Linked DNA regions of Homo sapiens: region 1 is linked to region 2. Evidence: fine-mapped expression QTL. A gene starts in region 2. The other region holds a variant in brackets. All regions are shown on one strand. Distances are from middle to middle. Region 1 overlaps LOC105372952 (a long non-coding RNA gene). Region 2 holds the start of VPREB1 (V-set pre-B cell surrogate light chain 1).

What was found. PIP is the estimated chance that this variant, and not a neighbour inherited with it, causes the effect. A credible set is the group of variants that fine-mapping cannot tell apart.
Region 1: its variant is the best candidate, but not a certain one, in a credible set for the expression of VPREB1 in whole blood (TOPMed, PIP 0.56).

Annotation. Positions count from the first base shown.
Region 1 is chr22:22,285,750-22,288,681 of GRCh38, reverse strand. LOC105372952 (a long non-coding RNA gene) reads left to right here. Exons shown (of 3, transcript XR_938055.3): 3 at 1-386. It also overlaps IGL. Among named protein-coding and RNA genes, the nearest start is that of VPREB1, 42 kb to the right of the region's middle. The variant AATGAT/T (reference allele first, on the strand shown) is at 1,458.
Region 2 is chr22:22,243,214-22,246,145 of GRCh38, reverse strand. It overlaps VPREB1 (V-set pre-B cell surrogate light chain 1), which reads right to left and starts at 1,360. Exons shown (of 2, transcript NM_007128.4): 1 at 1,287-1,360; 2 at 631-1,200. The coding sequence starts at 1,332. The coding sequence ends at 809. It also overlaps IGL.

The DNA.
Region 1 (2,932 bases), 43 kb before region 2:
TGTATTCATAGTATCTGCCAAAACAGAAAGAAAAAAAACAAAATATTTTGATAAGAAGTTAAAGCTTTGTATATAATATGCCTTGAATTGTAAGTGCCTGTTATTAGTTGTATTACATATAGGTCATGGTTTTGTACACATAACTCCAAACCATTGATACTGTTAAAAGAATATATGAATATATGAAAGAATGTATAAACGTAAGAATGTGTCAGTATCTAATGACCTTTCCAAATTAATTTTTATTTTTAGCTCTGTTAGATTTTTCTCAGTGTAACAAATGTTTATTCCTATGTAATTAAGGGCGTATTTCCTGTACAGAATATTCATATTACCTAATTGAAAATTATATGATACAAAAATATAATACTATTTTTAGCCAGGCATGGTGGCTCATACCTGTAATCCCAACATTTTGAGAGGCCACGTTTGGAGAATCATTTGAGTCCAGGAGTTGACCAGCCTGGGCAACATAGTGAGACCTTGTCCTTATTAAATAAATAAATAAATAAATAGGTTGGGCACTGTGGCTCATATCTGTCATCCCAGCATTTTGGGTTGCCAATGCAGGAGGATTGCTTGAGCCCAGGAGTTTGAGACCAGCCTGGGCAGAATAGCAAGACTCCATCTCTACAAATAATAAAATATTAACCAGGTGTGGTGGTGTGCACCTGGGGTCCCAGCCACCTGGGAGGCTAAGGTGGGAGGTTTGCTCGAGGCTGCAGTGAACTGTGAATGCACCACTGCATTCCAGCCTAGGCCACAGAACAGGACCTTGTCTATAAATAAAGAAATAAGTAAAAATATAAATAAAAATAAGTAAAAAGAAATATAAGTAAATATAAATATAAATACATATAAATATAAAAATGCATACATGAAAAGAAACAATTTTTAAATTTAACATCACTGAGGGCATCCTATCCATTTCATTTCATGATTCCATTACATCATTTCACTTAGATGAAATGATAAGATGACTTGAGATGAGATGAAATGACGAAATGATGAGATGAGATGAGATGATGAGATGAAATTTTGAGATGAAATGGTGAGTAGAAACGATGAGATGAAATGATGAGACGAAATGACAAAATTGAAAAGAAATTGAAAGGAGATGAGATGAGATGAAATGAGATGAAATGATGAGATGATGGATGAAATGATGAGATGAAACGAGATGAAATGATGAGATGAAATGAAATAATGAAATGATATGAAATAATGAAATTGAAATGAGATGAGATGAGATGAAATAATGAGATAAAATGATGAGATGAAATGAGATGAATGATGAGATGAAATGATGAGATGAAATGAGATGAAAAATGAGATGAAATGAAATAATGAAATGAGATGAAATGAAATGAAATAATGAAAGGAAATTATGAAATGTAATGATGAAATTGAAATGAAATTGAAATGAGTTGAAATGATGAGATGTAATGATGAAATGA[AATGAT/T]GAGATGAGATGAAATGAGATGCAATAATGAGATGAAATGCGATAACGAGATGAGATGAGATGAAATCATGAGATGAAATGATGAAATGAAATGATGGATGAAATGATGAGATGAAATGTAATGAGATGAAATGACAAATGAAATAATGAAATGAGATGAAATGAAATAATGAAATGATGAGATGAGAAGAAATGATGAGATGAAATGATGAAATGATGAGATGAGATAAAATGAGATGAAATGATGAGATGAAATGATGAGATGAAATGAAATGATGAGATGAGATGAAATATGAGATGAAATGACATAATGAAATGAAATGATGAAATGGAATAATGAAATGGAAATGATGAGATGAGATGCAATGAGTTGAAATGAGATGAAATGATGAAATGATGAGATGAAACGATGAGATGTGATGAAATGATGACATGAAATGATGACATAAAATGAGATGAAATGAGATGTAATGATGAAATGAGATGAGATGAAATGAGATGAAATGATGAGATGAGATAAAATGATGATATGAAATGAGATGAGTGATGAGATGAAATGATGAGATGAGATGATGAGATGAAATGATGAGATGAACTGATGAGATGAAATGAAATGAAATAATGAAATTGAAATAAAATTGAAATGAGATGAAATGATAAGATGAGATGATGAAATAAAATGATGAAATGATGAGATGAAATGATGAGATGAGATGACATGAAATAATGAAATGAAATAATGACATGAAATTGAAATGAGATGAGAAGATATGAGATGAGATGAAATGATGAAATGATAAGATGAAAAGAGTTGATGAGATGATGAGATAAAATGATGAGATGAAAGATGAGATGAAATGATGAGATGAAAGATGAGATGAAATGATGAGATGAAATGGGATGAAATGAAATTAGACGAAATGTAATGAGATGAAATGAAATGACATAAATGAAAAAATGAAATGAAATAATGAAATGAGGTGAAATTAAATGAGATGATGAAATTAAATGATGAAATGAAATGATGAAATGGAAATGATGAGATGAAATGCCGAGATGAATGATGGATTTGAAATGATGAGATGCAATGATGAGATGAAATCATGAAATCATGAGATGAGATGAGATGTAATGATGAGAGGAAATGATGAGATGTAATGAAATCCCCCGCACTGCATCCGATGAAATGAAATAATGCAAGGAAATTGAATTGACCCTATCACCCGGAATGAGCTAAAATGAGATGAAATAAGAAATGATGTTTTGTTTTGTTGACATGCTGAGGTGAGATGAGATGAGATGAGACGAAAGATGAGATGAGATGAGACGAAACGATGAGATGAAATGAAAGGAAGAGATGAAAGGCCGAGATGAAATGATGAGATGAGGTGAGATGAAATGAGATGAAACAAGATGAAATGATGAAATGATGAGATGAGAAGAAATGAGATGAAATGAGATGAGATAAAA
Region 2 (2,932 bases):
CGGTGAGCTATGATTGCACCACTGCACTCCAGCCTGGACCACAGAGCAAGACTTTATCCCTAAAAAAAGGAAAAAAAGAACATGTTTGCCGACACCTGCCACTCTCTTGTACAAATAAGTAAATGCATTTACTTGCTCATCTAGACCAGTGGTTCACAATCAGTGTGAGTTTACCACCTGGGGACATTTGGCAATGTCTGGAGACATTTTTGTTTGTCACAACTGGGAAGGGGCATCTGGTGGGTAGAGGCCACAGATAACCACTCACCATTCAACAATCCGCAGGACAGCCCCACAACCAAGAACTGTCCAGCCCAAAACGTCGATAGGACCAAGGTGGAGAACCCACTCTAGGCCTATTACCTGGCTCCTGTTCTCCCTGGAGGCCCAGACCAGGTGCTTTCTAAGCTTGTTTGCCCTGTAACCGCTGGGCAGAATCAGATGACACCAGAGGGTCCTGTCCTGGGCATGGATGCCCCTCCAGGGTGCTTCGGTCAACCCCTTGCCTCCCATGGCCCACAAAAGTAAGGACTCAGGTGAGTGCTCACCACAGTGATCTGCCAGTCTCCCGGGGCCCCGGGCCTTTGCCCAAGGCTGGTACTACGAAGTCGCACAACAGTCAGACCAAACTCAGCAAAAAGTGACAAGCAGCTTTAATTCCCTAATGCAGTCTCCAATGGGGATTTACAGCAACACTGCAGGACCAGGAGATGCTGAGTGGCTCAGCCTCCTCGGCGCTTCGGGCGGCGACTCCACCCTCTTCCATGACAGTCTCTCCAAGGGGATGCGTGCCTCTGCTGTCTTCAGTTCAAGGGACACGTGTCCTGGCTGCAGTGGGTTCCATTTCTTCCTCCCACTCCCTCTCCCTCTCCTCCTTCTCCGAGCTGCGGGCCCCCATAGCACAGTAATACATAGCCTCGTCCTCAGGCTGCAGCTCAGAGATGCTCAAATACCCCCTGTTCCTGGCCACATCTTTGGATCCAGAGAAGCGAGGGGGGACCTGGGGGCCCTGGCTCTTGTCTGATTGTGAGAAATATCTCAGCAGGAACCTGGGAGGGTGGCCCGGCCTCTGCTGGTACCAGTAGACGCTGTACACACCGATGTCATGGTCGTTCCTCAGGGTGCAGGTGAGGCGGATTGTGGTTCCAAGGGCCGAGGACATGGCCGGCGGCTGATGCAGCACCGGCTGAGGACCACAACCTGGTGACACAGATGCATGTGGGCCGTGGGGGCAGGGCAGGATGAAGGAAGGGGCAGGAGTCTTTGGGATCTGGGGGTTCCCTCACCTGTGCAGTAGACAAACAGCATGAGCAGGACAGGAGCCCAGGACATGGTGCAGACATGCAGAGCTCTGACTCCTGTGGCCACGGTGCCTGGGGTCCCCAAGGGCTGGCCCAGCATCCTCCTCCCTGCTCTGAGAGGTGGGGCCGTGGCACACCCCGTTCCTGGCCACTACCATCCCAGACTTTCTTGGGTCTGCAACGTCGGTTACCGGAACAGCGTCGGGGCAGCATTTGTGGCTCTGATCTTGCCATATGGAAGCATTCAGGGAGGAAGCACCTGCTGGAGACTCTGGGGCCAGTGCCCTGGAGGCCTTTGGGTTAAGGTACCTCAGGGGTCGTGACCTCAACTTCCCCCTGAGGAAACCGCACCCCAGATAAATAAATTTTCTGTCTACATTTAAATGCTTGGTGAGCCAGGAAGGGAGGACACATCCTCGGGGGGTGAAAACACCTGCTTTGTACAGCAGAAGACACTGGGGGCCCAGAGCGGGTTGGGATGTTCTGCCCCTTCCATGTTGCAGCACTGCCTTCGGCCCATGCTCCTCTCCCTACTAGAACCAAGTAGAGTGACTCAGGCATGGGAAAGAAGCACCAGGGCCTGGTGCCTTCCCCACCCCTGTTCTGGCTCACCGAGCAGGTGCAGCTTGGCACTGTGATAGACTGAATTGCATCCCCCAAATCCATAGGTTGAAGCCCTAACCCCCAGTGTGCCTGTATTTGGAGATAGGGCCTTTAAGGAGTTAATGAAGGTTAGATGAGGTCATAGAGGTGGGGCCCCGGTCAGTACAACTGGTGTCCTTATAAAAAGGGGAAATTTGGGAGCCGGATGCAGTGTCTCACACCTATAATCCCAGCACTTTGGGAGGCCAAGGTGGGAGGATCACTTGAGCTCAGGAGTTCGAGTCTAGCCTGAGCAACATGGCAAAACCCCATCTCTACAAAAAAAATTTAAAAATTAGCTGGTCATGGCGGACAGGCACCTGCAGTCCCAACTACTTGGGAGGCTGAGGTGGGAAAATCACTTGAGCTTGGGAGGTTGAGTTGAGGCTGCAGCAAGCCAAGATCTCACCACTGCCCTCCAGCCTGGCCAACAGAGGGAGACCCTGCCTCAAAAAAAAAATGAGAATAAAAATAATACATTAAATGTATGTTTGCATACTACCTGCAAGATTTAAAAAAAAATTAAGGGGAAATTTGGACTTAAAGTCTCTGATCCCACATGCTCACCCTCCCTCAAAAAGCTGGAGTGTCTCCTCCCCTGGAACCTGTGCAGGCCTGTGATCAAGGCTGAAGTGTCCCTGGGTGCACGAGGTGGCACTGAGCAGCTGGGTGTGCACTGGGACTGTTTACTTGCAAACACTTTGATAGAGCAACCACCCCTGAGGCTCAGATGAGCCCCTGCTCGGTGTCAAGCTGCCCCACATCCATTCTCTGCCTGGTGAGGTGCAGGCTGCACCAGTTTCAGCCCGCAGGGTCGACTCTGGGAGCCCCACCCTTCTTCCCACTGCCTCTCTGGCCAACAGCTCCACTGCCCAGGTGAGGGCTGGGGAGGGCCTCTGCAGACACAGGATGTCTTGACCACTCTGTCCAGTAACAGCTGCAACCACATCTATGACCTGTTGCTCCTCCCTCCTCTGCACAGGCTGGTG